Homo sapiens: one gene and its partners. The protein of the gene in region 2 purifies or fractionates together with the protein of the main gene of each other region. This does not show direct contact. Each region holds a gene or a part of one and is shown on either strand. Other genes may lie near its edges.

Region 1 (2,501 bases), on a different chromosome or scaffold from region 2:
TTTTTAAAGATTACAAATCGAGAAGTATAGCATAGTCCTTTTATCTTTTAAATAATTAGCTTATTTTTTTGAAATTTGTCATCTTTTTGACTGACATTTTCCAGAGAATTGCTGTAAAGCCACAAGATGGAGCTCAAGCTAAGCACCAAATCATTTTGGAATTAGATTGAGTGAGCTAAATCACATTAGGAATTGAATGTAACACTTTTTGTGTTTTAAGAAATTAAGTCTGAAATCAAAATATAATTTAAAGATGATCAAAACTGCTTCAAGTATTAACTCATTTAATCTGCCCAGCAATCTCATGAGTTTGGTACTAATGTTATCTGAGTTTGGTACTAATGTAATCTCTGTTTACACATGGGGAAACTGAGGCACACAGGCCATACAACTAAAACTGAAATCTGGGATTCAAATTTAGGCAGTGTGGCTCTAGAGCCTATACTCTTACAATGCCATTCTGCCTCTCAAGGATGTGCAAACTCTTGCTAAGAGAGAAAGGTGATTTTAGGATAGAATACCTATTTTTGGGTCAACCTGTGATAGATTGGGTTCATGTGGGCTCAGGATCAGATAAAGAGCAGGTTTAAGTAGAATAATGATGTACAGAACCCTCCTCAAATCTCTAGGCCTAAGGCAGACTGGATTTCCTCAGGTGACACTTCATTAGGAATGGGCTGACCAATCCAAAAGGGGAAGGTGTAGGCCATGATCAGTAGTTGCCCAAGGTACTAATCAGAGAAGAAATGCAAACTGCAGTTGAAGCTCTAAGGTAGAATCAAGTAGTGGTTTTGACCACATCCTATTTTCTACTGTCACATTAGTGTAGATATCTCTTCCCACTATGTAATTCACATGCTACATCAAATAAGGATGCAGCAGTATATATTTGCTTATTAGGAAATTCAGATATTTTCAAAATTTGGATCCGTGTTTCTGGAATATGGCTTAAGAGTTGGAGAAGAAAAATAGCTATAAATGACTTGAATCAAATATCTGAAATGGACTGGTGGTGATGGTGAGGGGCAGCAATGTGTAATTTAGGGAAGTGCTGACCACAACATAAAATTGGGAGGAATCTAAGGCATTGCCAAATTTATAAATACTACAATAGAAATGCAGATGCTAAGCTGTTGGCTAATCTTACTAGTTAAGTGACTAACTTCTGATGCCATCTGGCAGAGTGATTCAAATTTGTGCTAAACACAAAATATATGTCTTTTTCCCTCTATTTGCCTGCATGTATTAATAAAAACACTGTTGCAGTAGACACATACCAATTTTACAAGGAAATGTTTAGGGGTGAGGTGGGACTGTTAAATACTTACATCAGGTCAAAGGTCACTCTGCTGTTTCCAGAGGACTGTCAGGTAGCCAGGAGGCCCAGGGCCACTTTTGGGCCTGCTTACAAAACCCTAAATTTTCCGCAGTTGAATGCCAAGAGTCTTTTGCAGTTATTTTAGAGCAGGGGAGAAAATACAATGTGTTGCCAAATAAGCTTAATTTGGTAGGCAAGCAGTAAAAATAACCCAACAGCCAACATTTAGAGAATGCGTACTCTCTTAAATGCTTTATGTATATTATTTAATCTTTAAAACACTGTGGGATCAATACTTTAATTATCCCTATTTTCAGATGAGAAAACAGTTTGAAAGGTTAACTAAATTTACCCAAAGTCATGCAACTGCTAAGTAGTGAGCAAGCCGCCTGTCCCAGAGTATAGAATGAATACCTATGATGGAAAGCTACAGAGAGACAGACTTTTATTTGATTTAAGGAAGCGCCTTCTAACCAAGATTTTGGGAGCTGAAATGGGCACCTTGGGATCCTTGAGGTGTCAGTCTAAGGTGGACAGGCATTTGGTTGGAATGTAGCAAAATGGATTCAAACACTGTAGAGTTATCCTTCAGAATCTATCGGGGATTGGTGCCAGGATCTTCACAGATACCAAAATCCACAGATGCTCGAATCGCTTACATAAACTGGTGAAATATTTGCATATAACCCATGCCCATCCTCCCATATATAGTCATATGTCACTAAATGACTGGGATGTGTTCTGAGAAGTGTGTCACTAGGTAATATCGTTAATCATTGTGTGAATATCATAGACTGTACTTACACAAATCTAGAGGGTATCGTCTACTACACTTAGGCTATGTGATATAGCCTATTGCTTCTAGGCTACAAATTGGTCAAGCAAGTTACTGTACTGAGTACTGTAGGCAATTGTATCACAATGGGAAGTATTTGTGTATCTAAACATAGAAAAGGTACAGTAAAAATACAGTATAAAAGATAAAAAAATGGTACACCTGTACCACTTATGAATAGTGCTTGGAGGACTCGTGCTTGGGGTGAGTCAATGAGTAAGCCATGAGTGAATGTGAAGGCCTCAGACATGACTGTATACTGCTGTATATTTTTTTTTTTTTTTTTTGAGACGGAGTTTCACTCTTGTTGCCCAGGCTGGAGTACAATGGCGCAATCTCAGCTCACCT
Region 2 (3,753 bases):
CTCAGGCAGGGGTTCAGGCCCAGAGGCCCCGACCCAGCCCCATGTGGGCCCTTGGTACCTATGGAGCGGGAGGGGGGCGGCGCCCCTGCCTGTTGCCACTCCGTGGCCTCGGCAGCCAGGCGCCTGATGTAAGCGTCCCCCACACACAGCAAGATGTTCTCGGGCTTGATGTCCGTGTGGATGATCTTGCACTTGGTGTGGAGGTAGTCCAGGCCGTGCAGCACCTGCAGAGAGTCGCACCTGACCTCCTCCAACTCCCGCCCAGGCCAGGCTGGGCAGCCCAGTGGGTGGCACTCACCTGCCTCACGATGCTCTTCACGCAGGGCACGGGCAGGCCCTGGTAGTTGGACTTGATGATCCATTTGAGGAGCTGGTGGCCCAGCACCTCCAGCACCATGCACACATCTGGGCTGGGAGTGAAGGGCGGCCAGTGGACACCAGCTGCGGCACAGGCCCCACCCACCCTCAGCTAGGGGAGCAGCAAGGCTTGGGCCGTGTGGAGGTGGGGAGGCAGGGCCTCCCCTGGGCAGTCCTGGTCACCATTATGCTGGTGTCATCATCGATAGTGTCCCTGTCAGTCTCAACAGGTATGCCAGTTGGGATGGTGCATTTTGTGGTCATCCTAGAGGTGGCGCTGGAGGAGCAGGCACAGAGGCCTCTCGGGCCAGCCCACTCCCATGCTAGTTATGCCATAGGGCCTCTTGGCAGTCCCCCAAAGGGAAGGCAGTGCCACAGAGACAGCACCTGCCGTTTGGGGATAATAGCAACGTCCATGGACAATCAACGCTAGCTTGTTACTGCCTCCACGTAAACACAGTTACCTGGGGGCGGGGTCGTGCCAGAGGCTCCCGTTACTGGGAGGGATGCAAGCCCATTGTGCGGGTCTGCAGACAGGCTCTAGCAGCGAGGGCCCCCCCATTTGCCGGCCCTTGGCTGCCACACTGCTTTGCTCTTCCTGCAAAGGATACGGACTCCATTGACTCCTGAGATCCTGAAGTCATCAATGAGCTGGACAATGGTCTCTCTTTTGGGGTCACTGGGGTCGCTGTCCCGGACCTGGAGCAAAAGCCAAGGGGCCACAGATGGTTCCACCCTGCCCTGAAGCCCACAGCTCCCTTCAGTGTACCCTTCTCCTGCTCCAGCTGGGCCCTGCTGGAAGAAAGGCCGCCAACCCCTCCTGTCCCTCGCCTGTTCCTCCAGATCCTCCCCCTTGGGCACAGCCAGCTGGAGGCTGCCCCTCAGGGAGCCCCGCCCTGCCCCACAGAGCCCCGGCAGGCCTTGCACCCGCATTGCCAGGCCCCAGGCAGCTCCAGGGGAGCTGGGAGTGGGGTAGGGAGGTGCCTCACACATTTCAGGAGCTTGATCTCATCCACAGCTGTCTCCGTGTAATGCCCCGCACTCTTCACCACTTTGAGGGCCACAAAGCGCTTGCGCCTGCAATACCGAGACCCTTGTAGGCTGTGGCCCTGGCAGGACCCACGGCGGGGATCAGGGTGGCCCCAAGCAAGCCCAGGGACAGGATCCCAGCCAGTGCTGGGCCCCGGAGGCGAAGGAGGCACTCACTGGATGTCCCAGCAGAGCCAGACGGTGGAGAAGTGGCCCCAGCCCAGTTTGCGCACCACGTGGTACCGCCCATTGAACACGTCGCCGATCTTCACAGGGTGGTAGCCGCCTGCCCAGGGGAGATGTAGATTGGGGTGGAGGGGGTTCTCACTCCCCTGGGCCCCCGAACACCTCGGCCCCATTGACCATCTGGCCCATGTGGGCCCAGGACTGCCCTGGGTCCCTGCAGTGGCCGTGAGGCCGCATGTCCCCAAGGCCAAGTCTCACCCTTGCAGTAGTCTTTGGGGTCTTCCTGTTCCTCGTCGTCGGAGCCCAGAAGGCCCTGCAGCATCTGAGGCACCGGTGTGGCCAGGGCTAGTTCGGAGCCCGAGGACTCGGGCCCGCAGGAGGCCTGTGAGCTGCGGGTGGGGTGAGTGGCAGTGGGCATGAGAGACGCCAGGGGCTCCGGGTGCCCCAGCCGAGCCCTACCTGCTGCTACTGCCGCCGCTGCCGCCGCTGTCCCCACCACCGCCCGTGCTGGCGCTCATCCCGGCCACGCAGCCCGCAGCTCCGGTGCCCCGGGCGGCTGCTCCTGTGGGGCCCGGCCGCGGCCTGCGAATTTATAGCCTTGGCCGGCCGCTGATCTCACCCGCCTTTATAAATAGCCTCCCAGCTGCTCGGCTGTGGGCAAGGTATGCGGTGCGGGGAGGGGGCGGCGCGACGGCGGCCCCAGAGAGCCCGGCCCCCGGGCAGAGGCCCCCCTCCTGCTCCAGGCCCACCCTGGAGGCAGAGGGGGCTGCTGCTTGGGGACCAGGGGCAACTGGGCCCCCAGGCTGAGCCTCCGCACCCCAGCTGAGGGGGAGGTCCACGCGGGGGTGAAGCAGCCCGTACCCCAGGTCGGGCTCCCGTTCTCCGGTGCGGACTGTGGGGATGTGCTCCACTTGGCAACCTGGTCCTTAGGCCAAGCCCCCACCACCTGTGCCCCTGTGGGCATCCTCCTGGAGGTGCCCTTCTCATTCCCATGGGAACCCTGTCCCTGGCTGCTCCCAGCCACTTCCTGCTTCTTCTATGTTTCATCAGCCCCTAGGACAACTGGGAGTCCAGTGCCCTCTGAATGTGGCGTCACTGGGGACCCCTCATTTCCCCTACCAGAGGCAACAGGCCTGCTGAGGGGAGGCCTGGGAGCTTGCCAGCCCAGAACCTGCTCCTGCGACGCTGCCTGGCGCTCTGGCTCCCAGCGCCTGCTCTTCCTCTCCACCATTTGCAAGGTGCCTGTCGTGGGCTGCTCCATAGCCAGACATGAGGGAGGCAGCAGGAAGCTGCTCACTGCTGGGGACAAGCAAGCCCATAGCCACTTCCCCATGAGTGCGGTGGTGACTGAGGGGCCTGTGACCCAGGGGCTGCATCATGAGAGACCAGGAGAAATTGGGTCCCCAGAAGCATCCAGGGCAGCACAGGGCACAGTGGGGCAAGGCCTGCGGCCAAGACGCGTTCCAGCCCTTCACGTGCTGGCCACGGCTGCCGCATGGTTCGAGGGCGAGGACTAGAGGCCTGGTGTCTGTAGGCTTAATGTGGAGCTTGGGTGATATGGGGTTGGGGGGTGGTCACTGAGCTTCTGCTCAGCAAAAGATCACTCTGGCCACTTCAAGGACAAGGGAATGGAGAGGCGAGGGTGGAGCCGGGAGGCCAGCTGGGGCCTGACAGAGGAGTCCCAATGAAAGGGAGGGGGCTCGGCAGAGAGGGTGTTTGTCCCAAGATATTGGTGCAGTGTCCCTGTACCAGGGTCCGTGAACTGGTAGGGGTGGGCCAGGCATTGCTGGAGGGGCCAGCGAGGTCAGAGAGTGGGAGGGAAAGTGAAGCCCGGGTACCTGATGGCCTCTCTTTGTCTGTGGGTAGCAGGTTATAGGCATGGGGCTGAGGGACTCTCAGTCAGGAGAGCACTGAGTCAGCTCCTGCAGGGAACAGCAGGGGCTGGGGATTGGGCCCTTTGTCAAAAGACATTTCTGGCCAGGCGCGGTGGCTCATGCCTGTGATCCCAGCACTTTGGGAGGCTGAGGCGGGCAGATCACCTGAAGTCAGGAGTTTTGAGACCAGCCTGTCCGACATGGGGAAACCCTGTCTTTACTAAAAATACCAAAATTAGTCGGGTGTGGTGGCACACGCCTGTAGTCCCAGCTACTCGGGAGGCTGAGGCAGGAGAATTGCTTGAAC
Region 3 (3,653 bases), on a different chromosome or scaffold from region 2:
CAGTGACATGACCTGTCACTCCAACCCTAACATATACTGTCAGCTCCTAGGAAGTTGAGACTATGTCTTAGAACTGCATCTCTGACAGAGTGTGTACTAAAAACTGTCTAATGAATAATTGAACTTTCTAGACCTCGGTCTATAATGTGTTAGACCAGATGATGTCTAATGTACCTTCTGACCTAATTATGCTTATTTGAAGAGGACTATGTTTTTGTTTCTTTTTAAGAAACAGGGTCGCCCTCTGTTGCCCAGGCTAGAATGCAGTGGCACGACTACAGCTCACTGCAGCCTCAAACTCCTGGGCTCAGGTGGTGCTCCCACCTCAGCCTTCTGAGTAGCTGGGACTGTCGGCATGCATCACACACTTGACTAATTTTTTTTTTTTTTTTTGTAAAGGCAGGGTCTTGCTACATTGCTCAGGCTGCTCTTAACTCCTGGGCTCAAGTGATCCTCCCGCCTTGGCCTCCCAAAATGTTAGGATTACAGGCATGAGCCATTGTGCCCAGCCAGGACTACGTTTTTGAAGGGAATGTTGACCTCGGTCCTTGTGCCTCTCTTGCCATCAACTCTGTAACCACAGAGGACATAGGCTGTTTCCTTCTGCGCTTCCCTCACATTGCTGATTCCAGTCCCCTTCCAGGAAAAGCCTGGAAGGAAACATTTCTCTCTACAAAGCTCTCGTTCTTTAAACAAATCAAGTACTACTTACAGATGAGGTCTCAGATGCGAGATCAACTCTAATACGAAATCCATCTGCAATCTGGGCCCCATTTCTGTATTATAAATACAAAGGGAAAATGGTTGTTAAAAATGAGCACTCGATTACTAAAACATCTATGCTAAAGTGAAACCAAAGAATAAAAAAAGTACTCATACATACTTATAGGACAATTATTCTGTTCAAACCTAAGGGATAAAATTACCTTTTCAATGCTTGCGTGGCAGCACTCTCCTCCTTAAACACAACATAGGCATTAATATTTTTCTGATCAGGATGAATTTTACGTCTACACCAAAAAAAAAAAAAGAAAGAAAGAAAAGAGAGACAAGGTAAATTTCTTAGCCTCAAAGTCACTAGAAAAAAATCTAGCTGTTTTCAACTCTTAACACACATGACAAGAATTCCTGGGTGGACATTTCATCTCTTTGAATAAATATTTAGTAATAACTCAAAAAATAACACACAACTTATAAAGATATTAGTGGAGACACAACCCATACTTTCTTAGGAATCATAACCATGAGAAAACAGATGAACCATGTATATGAATCCCTGAGAACCATACAAGAACTAAAAACTGACATCTTAGCTGCAGTCCGTATCTAACACACATATAAACAGTTGTGAAAGACGTGAGTTTTCCTCTTTACTGTGAAACACCCATATAGAAGAGTGCACAAACTACGTATAGCTGAGTGAATTAACAACAGCTCAACGTGCCTTGTAGCCCACTCAGAAGCCTCTCTGTGGCCCTTTCCCGTTGCAGCCCCTCCTTCCCTCCAAAGGCAACCACCATTCCCATTTTTATAGGAACTACTTCCCTGCACATCTTTGTGGTTTTATCAACCAAGTGTCTATTCTTAGACATCATACTTTGGTCTTGTCTATACTTTTGACCTGATATGTCTTTTGAATCTTGTTTAATTTACAGAGTTTTCTCTGTATCTCTTTATCTCTCACTATTTGGCCTGCAGAATTCCCCACAGCCTGGATTTTGTGACTGCAAGCTCATCAAGTAGTTTAACACAAACCTTTGTCCTCTATATTTCTTGTAAACTGGCAGCTGCATCAAAAGGATGGATCAGACTCAGACATGACCCCTTTGTCGCGACTGCTGGTGGGTGTTGTGTTCTTTCCAGGGAGTCATGTTATGACTGGTTTTTACCCTTTTGTCAATGACTGCAGCTGCTGCTACTAAATGCCTAAACTCATTAAGTCACTAGGTTTGCAAAATGGTGATATAATTTGGATGTGAGGAGTTAGCAAAAAGGACCTAGTAATGAACACAGATCTTTCCCTGAAGACATCAACCTACTGTTTTGAAGTAAGAAAAATGCTACTACACAAATGAGTATCATCAAGAAGGGAACTGGAAAATAGTGCCTGACATGACTGATGGCATTCTGTAATAATACACTATACTAATGCTTTTGTATTGATTAAACCAGCTGTGATTTACTGAATGCCTAATATATACCAGACACTCAGCTAGACATTTTATGTATTTCATTTAATCTCACATCTCCAACACGGTGTTTTTTTTCTGATTTTATGAATAAGGAAGCTGAGACTGGAAGAGGTACGTGACTGCGATGAAATGGCAACAAGTGGCTGGCCTAGGACTGAAACCAAGTCTAGCTGACTCTAGAGCCCTGCTCTTCACACAACACACAGCTGCCGACAACATCCAAATCCAACACATCCTAGTGCACCCCCAGGAACAAATGCTGGAGTTCCGCTTCCACCTAGAATGTAAAAAGCCAGAAAGTGCATCACTCCTGCTCTTACCAGTTAAGAAGAAACCAGATAACCCACAGCATCATAACTTTTGTTGCAGCCATCACAGAGCTGAAGTCTTGGGGAAAGCCAGCAGCTAGAAGCTAAGGACAGGCCTGCTTCCTCCAATGAGAGACAGAGGAAGCACTGGCTCTTCTGGCTCTACGATGGCCGAGCACAGGGGCAAAATGCTGGGCACCAGACAAGCAGGAAAGATTCCAGCCATGATCTCACTAAAACACTAGAGCTCAGCGTGGGCTGGGCCTGAAACAGAAGTCCTGGAAGCTGCCGAGGCAGGAGTGTGCGCCCATCCTCAGGATCTGCCCCACTGACCTCCACTCCCTGGGAAAGGCTGAGATCGCAGCTATGGGTGCTGCAGGCCTGGAGGACGGAATGGCCAAAGTGTGGGAAAGGCACAAAGCCCCACCTGGATTCTTCTTGAGAGGTGACAGCGTGCTGGCAGTCCTCAGAGCCCTCGCTTGCTCTCCGCACCTCCTCTGCCTGGGCTCCCACTTTGACGGCACTTGAGGAGCCCTTCAGCCCACCGCTGCGCTGTGGGAGCCCGTTTCTGGGCTGGCCAAGGCCGGAGCCGGCTCCCTCAGCTTGCAGGGAGGTGTGGAGGGAGAGGCGCGAGTGGGAACCAGGGCTGCGCGGCGCTTGCGGGCCAGCTGGAGTTCCAGGTGGGCGTGGGCTTGGCGGGCCCCGCACTCGGAGCAGCCGGCCGGCCCTGCAGGCCCTGCCGGCCCCGGGCAGTGAGGGGCTTAGCACCCGGGCCAGTGGCTGCGGAGGATGTACTGGGTCCCCCAGCAGTGCCAACCCACTGGCGCTACGCTCGATTTCTCACCGGGCCTTAGCTGCCTTCCCGCAGGGCAGGGTTCGGGACCTGCAGCCCGCTATGCCTGAGCCTCCCACCCCCTCCATGGGCTCCTGTGCGGCCCGAGCCTCCCCGAGGAGCGCCACCCCCTGCTCCACGACGCCCAGTCCCATCGACCACCAAAGGGCTGGGGAGTGCAGGCGCACGGCATGGGATTGGCAGGCAGCTCCACCTGCAGCCCCGGTGCAGGATCCACTGGGTGAAGCCAGCTGGGCTCCCGAGTCTGGTGGGGATGTGGACAACCTTTATGTCTAGCTCAGGGATTGTAAATACACCAAT

Evidence for each region.
Region 1: the proteins of SRPK3 (region 2) and LLPH purify together in Homo sapiens (affinity purification with mass spectrometry; 2 studies listed by BioGRID and IntAct, with this or other methods). This does not show direct contact.
Region 3: the proteins of SRPK3 (region 2) and RBM34 purify together in Homo sapiens (affinity purification with mass spectrometry; 2 studies listed by BioGRID and IntAct, with this or other methods). This does not show direct contact.

The regions. Positions count from the first base shown.
Region 1 is NC_000012.12:66,118,303-66,120,803, reverse strand, and holds part of LLPH (protein LLP homolog), read left to right. Parts: 3' UTR 1-2,501. UniProt on the Homo sapiens protein: In hippocampal neurons, regulates dendritic and spine growth and synaptic transmission.
Region 2 is NC_000023.11:153,779,424-153,783,176, reverse strand, and holds the start of SRPK3 (SRSF protein kinase 3), read right to left. Parts: upstream 2,137-3,753; 5' UTR 2,091-2,136; coding exon 2,032-2,090; exon of another isoform or gene 1,962-2,031; coding exon 1,831-1,961; exon of another isoform or gene 1,673-1,830; coding exon 1,564-1,672; exon of another isoform or gene 1,435-1,563; coding exon 1,347-1,434; exon of another isoform or gene 1,057-1,346; coding exon 969-1,056; exon of another isoform or gene 406-968; coding exon 299-405; exon of another isoform or gene 225-298; coding exon 59-224; exon of another isoform or gene 1-58. UniProt on the Homo sapiens protein: Serine/arginine-rich protein-specific kinase which specifically phosphorylates its substrates at serine residues located in regions rich in arginine/serine dipeptides, known as RS domains.
Region 3 is NC_000001.11:235,137,165-235,140,817, forward strand, and holds part of RBM34 (RNA-binding protein 34), read right to left. Parts: intron 1,011-3,653; coding exon 927-1,010; intron 777-926; coding exon 713-776; intron 1-712.